Homo sapiens: one gene and its partners. The protein of the gene in region 2 purifies or fractionates together with the protein of the main gene of each other region. This does not show direct contact. Each region holds a gene or a part of one and is shown on either strand. Other genes may lie near its edges.

The links.
Region 1: the proteins of TBR1 (region 2) and POLE purify together in Homo sapiens (affinity purification with mass spectrometry, with the first as the bait; one large-scale study listed by BioGRID). This does not show direct contact.
Region 3: the proteins of TBR1 (region 2) and AP2A2 purify together in Homo sapiens (affinity purification with mass spectrometry, with the first as the bait; one large-scale study listed by BioGRID). This does not show direct contact.

The regions. Positions count from the first base shown.
Region 1 is NC_000012.12:132,677,343-132,680,989, reverse strand, and holds part of POLE (DNA polymerase epsilon catalytic subunit A), read left to right. Parts: intron 1-302; coding exon 303-383; intron 384-767; coding exon 768-812; intron 813-943; coding exon 944-1,036; intron 1,037-1,338; coding exon 1,339-1,493; intron 1,494-3,270; coding exon 3,271-3,412; intron 3,413-3,546; coding exon 3,547-3,627; intron 3,628-3,647. UniProt on the Homo sapiens protein: Catalytic component of the DNA polymerase epsilon complex. Participates in chromosomal DNA replication.
Region 2 is NC_000002.12:161,414,675-161,418,421, forward strand, and holds the start of TBR1 (T-box brain protein 1), read left to right. Parts: upstream 1-1,622; 5' UTR 1,623-1,736; coding exon 1,737-2,428; intron 2,429-3,001; coding exon 3,002-3,156; intron 3,157-3,526; coding exon 3,527-3,648; intron 3,649-3,747. UniProt on the Homo sapiens protein: Transcriptional repressor involved in multiple aspects of cortical development, including neuronal migration, laminar and areal identity, and axonal projection.
Region 3 is NC_000011.10:984,870-988,516, forward strand, and holds part of AP2A2 (AP-2 complex subunit alpha-2), read left to right. Parts: intron 1-562; coding exon of another isoform or gene 563-565; coding exon 566-713; intron 714-1,915; coding exon 1,916-2,084; intron 2,085-3,647. UniProt on the Homo sapiens protein: Component of the adaptor protein complex 2 (AP-2). Adaptor protein complexes function in protein transport via transport vesicles in different membrane traffic pathways.

The DNA of each region.
Region 1 (3,647 bases), on a different chromosome or scaffold from region 2:
TTAACGTCATTGAGGGCCACAGAGAGGCCACTGTGAGAAGCCGGAGGTGATGGGCATCTCTTTTAGCCATCAGAATAAAGCTTTCAAGGATTATGAGGGAGAAATTGAGAGAGATCCCCATTTGGAGGCCGTTACAGTGTGGTTCTTGTGAATAAGGCTGGTAGTGTTAATGTAGGGGTGGAGTAAAGACCTAGATGAGAGGGTTTGTTTCTAAAGTGCTGAGTTTCCCGAAAGGTAGGAGGAAAGTTTCTCTAACTGTGTAGAGGATGGTCTTGTGTCTGTGTTGACTGATTCTCTTGTAGACCGAGATTTTAGATGAAGATAAGCGCTTAGGCAGTGCAGTGGATTACTACTTTATTCAAGATGACGGAAGCAGATTTAAGGTAAGCCCCTGACTGCGACAAGCTAAAACCCACTTTTATGGGTGTTCATGTAGCTCTGTGACTGTCAGGGAGGGCATGGGAGGCTTCCAGTGCACAGCAGCCCATAGCCCAGCAGAACTCGGGCCCCTGGAGGCCCCATCAGTCATCACGTAAGATGTCCTGAGAGAGGTCAGTTCAGGAAGACTCTGAATGGTGAGAAGTAGCGTGTCTTTCAGATTCTTGCCCCTGTGAAAAGTGCGCATTCTGACTTCCTGTATGCTACCAAGGTCAAGGCTACCCTGGCCCTAGGCTGTTCATGGGATATAGGAGCAAGCAATGTGTTTTCACTTTTCTCTCGCTTTCTTCTTTCTCATCACCCCTGGATGGGTTGGTGACTCTTAACAGGTGGCTTTGCCCTATAAACCGTATTTCTACATTGCGACCAGAAAGGTGAGTGTGTTTCATAGACTCAGGTCAGACGACCTGTGTGTCATTCTGTGGTGGGCTTTGCAACTGGGAAATAGGCAAGGAAGGAAATGTATTTTACCAATGGAAAGCCTTTTCATTCTGATCCTGATTAGGGTTGTGAGCGAGAAGTTTCATCTTTTCTCTCCAAGAAGTTTCAGGGCAAAATTGCAAAAGTGGAGACTGTCCCCAAAGAGGATCTGGACTTGGTGAGTATCACCCAGACTTTCCAGGGGTAAATGAGGCCAGAGTCTACATTGTTCCTGGCAGGTGGGATCGGAAGAGGTAGAAATTCAGGTCATCTGTTGGGTGATGGGGCGGTGTGGTGACCGTCTATAAAATTCCTTCCAAAGAGCTCTAGTGGTGTTAGTTGGTGCCACGTGCAGAGTTGGACAAGGTGCCTTGAAGTCGCCAACTCTTTGACTTGTGTGTTTACCTTTGAGTGTTTACCCTCTCACCCATAAAGTCCTATTTCTCTTGAACCAATGAGCGTGATCTCTTCGCATTATAGCCAAATCACTTGGTGGGTTTGAAGCGAAATTACATCAGGCTGTCCTTCCACACTGTGGAGGATCTTGTCAAAGTGAGGAAGGAGATCTCCCCTGCCGTGAAGAAGAACAGGGAGCAGGATCACGCCAGCGACGCGTACACAGCTCTGCTTTCCAGGTAAACTTTGGTCTTGTGAGCAAAGCATCAGCGGTTCAGAACGACAAGATGGATAGGAGACAGGAACACGTAGCAACAAAGTTACCTTAATGGCTGGCTCTGTTTGATACGGAAAACTTGAGCAATTAGGTAGAGATTTCTGTATGTTCTGTGTTAAATAAACAGTGGCTTCCCAGGTTATATTTTATGTGTTAGCTCTCTTTTCCAATGGAGGGGTGGGTTTATGGCTCTAAAATTGAGTGGTTGTAATAGTAAAGTCACCTTAGAGGGGAAAAGATCCCTCATCCTACTGCCCTAACACAATCCATCTATGAATTTCATTAAGTGCTGAGATTTACACAGCACATCTCCAGAGAACCTTGGGTATCGTCCACAGAAATTTAAGCCTAGAACACTAAACACTGTTCTTCAAGTATTTGAGCATCAACAATAATAGGATGCAAAGTAACCAGTTAGGAAGAGAAAATCTTGAGTAATGAAGTTTAGATGACTTCGGAAGAACCTACCTTACCCTCTGACAAAAGAGGATCAGTTTGGGATGCTGAACATTTCTACAGTCCCTACCCGGAGTCCGCCTTCCCTGGCAATGCCACAAGTTGCTTTTTGAAATATTGGAAGGTGTGATCAGAGACTGAGTCCTCAGAGACTTGAGCCATATCTGAGACTCGTCTGTCTTTTTCCCCCTGAATAGCCCGTTCAGTATTTGAGCTTATAGGCCAATAGTGGCCGCAATGGTGGGCCACTTCTTTAGACATGGCAGAGACCCATGCACAGGCTGTGTGAAGCCCAGGCCTGCTCTTCAGCCTGCATGAGGCAGCCTCCTGAGTATCAGGACCATGGTGGGATGGTCATGCCTGGCTCTCCTGACTGGCAGCACTTAATGTTTTCTTTCTTTTTTCTTCTATTTACTTATTTGTTTTGAGACAGGGTCTTGCTCTGTTGCCCAGGCTGGAGTGCAGTGGTGCAATCATAGCTCACTGTGGCCTCGAACTCCTGGGCTCAAGCGATCCTTTCACCTCAGCCTCCTGAGTAACTGGGATCACAGGTGTGTACCCCATGCCTGGCTAATTATTATTATTATTATTATTACTTTTGTAGAGATGAGTCTCCCTATGTTGCCCAGGCCTGTCTTGAACTCCTGGGCCGAAGCGATCCTCCTGCCTCCCAGAGTGCTGGGATTAGAGGCATAAGCCACCATGCTTGGCCCTCTTTTTTTTTTTCTAGTTGGGGTGTAACTCACATCATATAAAATGAATACATCTTACACTGAATTTTCTCCTGTCTGTAGAGTTATCATCCAAGCTATTCTTTATTTTTTTGAGATGGAGTCTCGCTCTGTTGCCCAGGCTGGAGTGCAGTGGCGCAATCTGGGTTCACTGCAACCTCCGCCTCCTGGGTTCAAGTGATTCTCCTGCCTCAGCCTCCCAGGTATCTGGGGTTACAGACATGCGCCACCACGCCTGGCTAATTTTTGTATTTTTAGTAGAGATGAGGTTTCGTCGTGTTGGCCAGGCTCGTCTCGAACTCCTGACCTCGGGTGATCCGCCTTCCTTGGCCTCCCAAAGTGCTGGGATTACAGGCGTGAGCTGCCACGCCTGGCCCAGTCCAAGCCATTCTTAAAGGAAGGACTGCCTTGGTCGTTGAAACCACATCAATTTACCTTTTGTGTTTCCTCGGTTTGAACTCTGGTCTCACCTCTTCCTACTGAGTTGGAACTCTGGTCTCACCTCCTCCAGACCCTGGCAGCTGAGTTAGTTGCTCTCTTGTTAATTCCTAGTGTTCTGCAGAGGGGCGGTGTCATTACTGATGAAGAGGAAACCTCTAAGAAGATAGCTGACCAGTTGGACAACATTGTGGACATGCGCGAGTACGATGTTCCCTACCACATCCGCCTCTCCATTGACCTGAAGATCCACGTGGTGAGTGGGGCAGGGTTGGGTCGCTGCTCACATGAATTTCCTAACAGCCAGGAGATGATCATTATGGGTGAATCCACAGAAGAATAGACTTTCCTGGATGTAGAACTCTAGTTAGCACACTGTGTGTTTTGCAGGCTCATTGGTACAATGTCAGATACCGAGGAAATGCTTTTCCGGTAGAAATCACCCGCCGAGATGACCTTGTTGAACGACCTGTAAGTTTTGCTTGTGTTAC
Region 2 (3,747 bases):
GGTGCCCAGGCCGCTCCTCCAGCCCGGGAAGAGCGTGTGCCCCTGGGGTCTGCGCCAGACGCAGCTCACCCCTTGCTCCTTCAGTCTCCCGGGCGGAGCCCGCCCTCGGGCCGGCCAGCTCTCGGGGCCGAGCGGAGCTCTGGGCGGCGCTCCTCCTGCTCATTCCCGCGCGGCTCGGCGTCCGGGAGGAAAGCCGCGGGAGGGCAGGTCAGCGAGCGCCGGGCCGCGGGAGGCAGCTTTGGGCAGATAAAAAGCCTCTGCCGCTCTTGGCCCTCTGGCTCAGGCCGAGGGCTGGGCTCCTCTGTAGAGCCGGTGCTGGGAGACTTCCTCCCTACACCTCGGGGTCTCTTCGGGCCTCGTGCTATTTATTTGTGCCAACATCTTTTTAAATTGGTTTTTTTCTATTCCTCTTTAGATTCTTTTTCCTTTTAAAAATTATTGGCATGGATGCTTTTTCTCCCCTCCAGATTATATAAACATTAAACACACACACGTACACACACACACACGTTTTCAGTAGCGATTACTGTGTTGACACCACTTCCACTCTGTCTCCCCAGATCAGCGCTTCTGACGAGCCCATTTGCACGGGGACTCGGCCCTCTCTTTTCCTGGCGAGGCTTTTGAACCTGTCGCCAAGCCAGTACCTCAGAGAGAAGGAAATGCAGAGGGACGAGAAGGATGCATGGCGCCTGCCCCCAGTTAGATGTTCTTCAGATAATCTGCAACCAAGTGCGCTGATAAAATATTTAATAAAGAGCCGGTAAACATCACTGCAAATACATTAAGGCATTTCAGCCCGACAGCTTATGATTATTTCAAAACTTAAAAAGGAGATCATAGATTGTCACTGTTTCTGTACTCAACCAAGAAACCGAACCTTCCTGAGGTGGGTGGATTGGTGGGTGAGTTGCTGCTTTTCGCCCCCTCTCCTCCCCCCTTCTGCTTGTCGCTGTGGCTCTCAGCAGCAGGGATTTATTTATTTATGTTTGCAGTTTAAAAGGTGGGGGTGGGGGCGCCGAGGACATGTAGGATCTGCTCACAAAGCACCAGCTCAGGTGTTGTGTGCTTTTGTATTAGCTGGAAAAGACAGACTCTGGAACTTTTACAGGGCGAGAAGAGGCCACCGGCTCGCGCTTTGTATACTTTGCACTTGAAATCGTTACATTCAACTGAATATTTGGCTCATTCAGATCCGAAAAGTCTCCTAGCATCGTCGAATTCCCTCCTCCGCCCCTCCGCTCTAAAGGGGGGAAGGGGGGGAAGGTAGGAAATGTTTAGTAAATTCCACATCTTTGAATCTTCCTAAAGCAGTGGTCACAGAGCTTAAAGGTGACACAACAGTGCTCACGTAAACCAACACACATTCCCCACCCCCCAAGCCAACAATAAAATCATCCCCTTCAATTTGCCATGATCGTCGCTACCAGGAGCCAGGTGATTATCCTAATTAATGTCTATCTAATTAAATTACTGTCAGCAGCTAACCAATGGCAGGAGCCGTTTCATCGGCTGCACAAGCAGCAAGATCAAAAGTGAGCCTTTTCTGATTGCTGCATAGTGTCAATTGGCCAATCTCTTCTCCCAGGGAAAAAAAAAAGTAAATCAAACCTTTGAGAAGCATTTGCTGGTTGAAGTGCTTTCTGTCTAGTGAGGGGGTCTGTGGATTTCTAGTTTATGATAAATAGGACTTTAAAAACCAGGGACGGGAGGGCGAGTGTTCAGGTTCTAGAGCTATGCAGCTGGAGCACTGCCTTTCTCCTTCTATCATGCTCTCCAAGAAATTTCTCAATGTGAGCAGCAGCTACCCACATTCAGGCGGATCCGAGCTTGTCTTGCACGATCATCCCATTATCTCGACCACTGACAACCTGGAGAGAAGTTCACCTTTGAAAAAAATTACCAGGGGGATGACGAATCAGTCAGATACAGACAATTTTCCTGACTCCAAGGACTCACCAGGGGACGTCCAGAGAAGTAAACTCTCTCCTGTCTTGGACGGGGTCTCTGAGCTTCGTCACAGTTTCGATGGCTCTGCTGCAGATCGCTACCTCCTCTCTCAGTCCAGCCAGCCACAGTCTGCGGCCACTGCTCCCAGTGCCATGTTCCCGTACCCCGGCCAGCACGGACCGGCGCACCCCGCCTTCTCCATCGGCAGCCCTAGCCGCTACATGGCCCACCACCCGGTCATCACCAACGGAGCCTACAACAGCCTCCTGTCCAACTCCTCGCCGCAGGGATACCCCACGGCCGGCTACCCCTACCCACAGCAGTACGGCCACTCCTACCAAGGAGCTCCGTTCTACCAGTTCTCCTCCACCCAGCCGGGGCTGGTGCCCGGCAAAGCACAGGTGTACCTGTGCAACAGGCCCCTTTGGCTGAAATTTCACCGGCACCAAACGGAGATGATCATCACCAAACAGGGAAGGTAATACTACATTTTTGGCTGCCGCTGCTCTAGGCGCAGCCGGGGACAAGTGCACCTAGGCTGTGACTGCCGCGGCAGCGACGATTTGGGGTCGGGAGCGGAGTGGAAGGCGCCCTAGAGTTGGCTAGTTTTGGAAAGGGGGAAAGTGGAAGGGATAACCGCCAGGGTGATGTTGGTGGGGGGGACCCCGTTCTAGGAACATAGTGGGAGAGCCAGTCAGTGGCCAGAGGAAGGCAAGAAAAAGGAAGAGCCCTGGCCAGCGGCTGGGCGATGGGAGGGACGCATCAACACTGGCATGCACGGACAGGTGGAGACGCAGGTCGCCAACCTCGCTCTCCACCTGGGCAGTGATAACTGCCACCTTCCCACTCCAGCTCACCCGCCGCTCTCCCTGATTTGGGTTGCACTTCTTTTCTTCTCCCACCACCCTTTTTCTAATCCAGCAAATATTCGCCTATTTGCTGCAAGTACAAGTTTTGCTTTGCTAACTGGCGCCCCGCTTCTTGCATTTAATCTTTAACATTTATGTTTCTTTTTTCCTTGTTTTCTCCCCCCACCCCTTAATTTAAATAGGCGCATGTTTCCTTTTTTAAGTTTTAACATTTCTGGTCTCGATCCCACGGCTCATTACAATATTTTTGTGGATGTGATTTTGGCGGATCCCAATCACTGGAGGTTTCAAGGAGGCAAATGGGTTCCTTGCGGCAAAGCGGACACCAATGTGCAAGGCAAGTCCTTCCAATTAACACATTTTCTTGACACTTATTTAGGTGAGAATGATTAATTAAAGCCTTTGTGGACTGGCTCGAGCGACTTTTAAAACGATCGGCCAATGACTTCTAAAAGGAAACGAGGGGGACAGGGGGACAGACTGAGCTGCGAGAAGGGGGAGGATTATGCAAAAGCTATTTTAATCACCCCCAGTTAATAGGAAGAAAGAATGGCCTAAAAAAGCCCCAGTTAATGGGCTTCATGGTGGAGTAAGGTGTGTGTATGTGTGTGTGTGTGTGTGTGTGTGTGTGTGTGTGTCCTACGTGGTGAGGAGCTGGGACTGGGCAGTGCCAGGGGCATATGTAAACAATGTATTTCTTTCTCTAGGAAATCGGGTCTATATGCATCCGGATTCCCCCAACACTGGGGCTCACTGGATGCGCCAAGAAATCTCTTTTGGAAAATTAAAACTTACGAACAACAAAGGAGCTTCAAATAACAATGGGCAGGTCAGTGGCTCAAGCGCTCGTGTTTTCTCTCTCTCTCACCCCTTCCTCCCTGACATCCAGTTCGTCAGTGTAAAGCAGCATATGGAACTGGATACACGT
Region 3 (3,647 bases), on a different chromosome or scaffold from region 2:
TCATGGACCTTTCTGCCAGTGCTGCTGTATGCGCTGGCTTTCGTGGAGCAGTTATTGCAGAGCCTACAGTTTTGTTAGTGTTTGGGTCTATTTGTGCTTTTATAGTATCAGATTTGTGCAGGTTTTCTTTTTGAGATGGAGTCTCCCTTTGTTGCCCAGGCTGGAGTGCAGTGACGCGACCTCAGCTCACTGCAACCTCTGCCTCCCGGGTTCAAGCGATTCTCCCACCTCATCTTCCTGAGTAGCTGGGATTACAGGCACCTGCCATCATACCCGGCTAACTTTTGCGTTTTTGTAGAGACGGGGTTTCACCATGTTGGCCAGTCTGTTCTTGAACTCCTGACCTCAGGTGACTGGCCTGCCTCGGCCTCCCAAAGTGCTGGGATTACAGAAGTGAGCCACCGTGCCCGGCCTGTCTCAGTTTTGTAAATGCTTCCAGCTGGGTACACAAATGTGAATGAACTATATTAAAAATGCTCTCATGATGTATGGGTGCAGCCGGGAGGGGCAGGGTGGGCTGCGGGCCACTGGAGACTGGTGAGCACCGTTCTGTCTTGCCCAGAAGACCCTGCAGTGCGAGGCCGCCTGACTGAGTGCCTGGAGACCATCCTGAACAAAGCCCAAGAACCGCCCAAGTCGAAGAAGGTCCAGCACTCCAACGCGAAGAATGCCGTGCTCTTCGAGGCCATCAGCTTAATCATTCACCATGACAGGTGTGTCGGCTGCCTGTGGAGAGGCTTCGTCTCGCGCACACACACACGTTCCTTCTCGTTGGCACGAGACTGGGCGGATCATGTCTGGTTTGTCCACTCCATGGGCCTCCCCTTCGTCCTGCCTCTGTGCTCCCTGCCGGATGCTTTTTTTCTTTCTGTGCAGCCCGGCCCCTCCTGCTCTGAGCTCACCGTGGATTGCTTTGGTGACTGTGGTCTCATCCCACACGAGGGCCTTTTCCTCCTTCCCCTGAGCATCCCCACTCCTGACTGGCTTCTCATGTAGTGGAACAGAGAGGAGACGGGTGGGGTGGGGGGTGTGCGCGCATGTCCCGTGGCTTTGCTGGATGTGGAGCCGCACTTGGTGGGTCCAGGGTCGCAGGGCAGTGCTGGAAACGTCTGTGCCCATCCACGAAGCGCAGAGGCGCAGGGTGGCGGTCGCTCCACACAGCCTGGAGGGTCTGCCTCCTCTGCTCCCACGCCTTCTCTGCTCAGCAGTTGCGGCGCACCACATGTGGTCTGGCGTGGGTCTTGCGTGTGGGGCCATGCTTTAGGGTCCTGTGAGAATGAGATCGCAGTTCTCACCAGGCTCCCAATAATGAGGGCACGTGCCAGGCTGTGGGCAGACGCTCTCTACAGCTTGTGAACACCACCCATTTGCTACTACAGCATTTTTACAAATGATGAAAACTCAGTCTGAGAGTCACACTTCAGAACTGAGAGTTATTAAAACTGAAATTTCCCATTTTGGAGAAAGCTCTGTTGTTATGTGAGGAGAAGCCACATCCTGAGGAGACAGTAGAGTCAGTGGGGCAGCAGCCGCGCTCCCGGCCTTCTCGGCCTTCTCCCTGCCCTGGGCTGGTGCCTCTGGCTGAGACCCCATTGCCGGTCACAGCTTGACCGGCCTCCCGCGGGCCTGATGCAGATTGAGGCTCAGGAGGTGCTGGGAAGGCTCCAGTGGACACACGGGCTGCTGACTCACTGTGGGGATGCACAGGATGGACACAAAATGGATGTCAGGGGTGGGGGTCGGGCGTCATCTGCATCTGGGGAGGCCCCCGAGTTCCCACTTGAGCAGTGTGGTGGCGGTGAGTGCCGTGTGACTTTGCTGTCTGCCATCTGGACCCGTCGGGGAACGCAGACTCTGTCCAGTTTGTGTTGCACTTGCTGAGGAAACCCCACCCACTTCCCCTCCCTCCACACAGTGAGCCGAACCTGCTCGTCCGTGCCTGCAACCAGTTGGGCCAGTTTCTGCAGCACCGCGAGACCAACCTGCGCTACCTGGCCCTGGAGAGCATGTGCACGCTGGCCAGCTCTGAGTTCTCCCATGAGGCTGTCAAGACGCACATCGAGACGGTCATCAACGCCCTGAAGGCGAGTGCCCTGTCCTTGGGTTCTGCTCACTCCCTGAGCAGGTGCCGTGGGTCTTCCTGTGAAGGCTGGGGGTACGCAGTGCCTCCTGACTCCCCGCAGAGATGGAGGTGGTGCTGGTGCTGCTGGCCTCCGCCTGTCACCTACTCTTGGGAGGTCACACCACTGTTGAGGGCCATGCTGCCTGGAGATGGCCGGGTTGGCCCTGCTGTCCTGGTTAGGCTGAGCAGAGGAGTCTCTGGCAGCCCTTTCCCTGCTGGGGGCAGCCCCCGTGTGCCATCCTGCGCGTGCATAGTGCTGACAAGTAGAAATGGTTCTTCTTGGTAGAAAGATGAAATTTTTTTCCCTTATCTCCAAGAAAATCCCCCTTTTACAAAGGAAACTCACTTTGTTCGGGGATTAAAATTTCAGAGTTGGGGCCGGGCGCGGTGGCTGACGCCTGTAATCCCAGCACTTTGGGAGGCCGAGGCGGGTGGATCACAAGGTCAGGAGATCGAGACCATCCCGGCTAACACGGTGAAACCCCGTCTTTACTAAAAATGCAAAAAAAAATTAGCCGGGCGTGGTGGCGGCCGGTGCCTGTAGTCCCAGCTACTCAGGAGGCTCAGGCAGAAGAATGGCTTGAACCCAAGAGGCGGAGCTTGCAGTGAGCCGAGATCGCGCCACTGCACTCCAGCGTGGGCGACAGAGCGAGACTCCGTCTCAAAAAAAAAAAAAAATTTCAGAGTTGGAAGAGCCCAGTTGAGGTTGGCCATTGCCAGCCTTTGCGAGTCTCCAGAGCGACCCCGAGGGTTCGTTCCACATAGGGGACCCTGCGGTGTGTCCACCAAGTCCCTAGTCACCGGTGCACATGCGTTAGGGAGTGGGAGGCGGGGAGCTGCATGTCCCCCATCTGGCTCAGCCTCAGGCTGTGGCAGGGCTGCTCCCAGTCCCCCGCACGTCTGCGTGCAGCTCACAGATATTCCGGGTGGTGTGCAAGGGGCTCGTGGTGGGCATTTGGTATTCTGGATTCTTCTTGGTCCTGGTTTTGGTGTTTGTTTTAGTCAATCCCTATTGTCAGAAGGGCTGGACACTCATTTGCACACGGCCAGTGCTAGCGCTGGTGGTGCCCACTCTCCTGCCTTTGTTGGGAGCAGAGCTCGGGCTTTCTCGTGCTGCAGAGCCTCCTGGGGGCCCATCAGCACGGGCTCTGGGGTGGGGCGTGAGGACCTGCCTTGGGGCAGCTCCGTGTCCGAGGCAGTGGGGTCTTTGGCTGCATGGAAGGGAGTCCTTGATGGCCTGCACCAGGCAGTGCGCTCAGTCCTAGCGAAGCTGGCCCTTGTGGAGGGCAAGGGAGGCATGGACGAGCGGGCAGAATCCAGGCAGTGCGCTGGGTCCTAGCGAAGCTGGCCTGTGCGGGAGGGCCGGGCCAGCAGGCGGAACTCTATTCCGGGCTGTCCAGACACACGTGGCCCGAGTGCAGGTCGGCTCCCTGGACCTGGATGTGCATGTGAGGGAAACTCAGAGTGGGTGTTGAGATGCGGGTGCCGAGCCTGTCCCCAGCCTGTCCCCAAGCTTGTGCCTTGC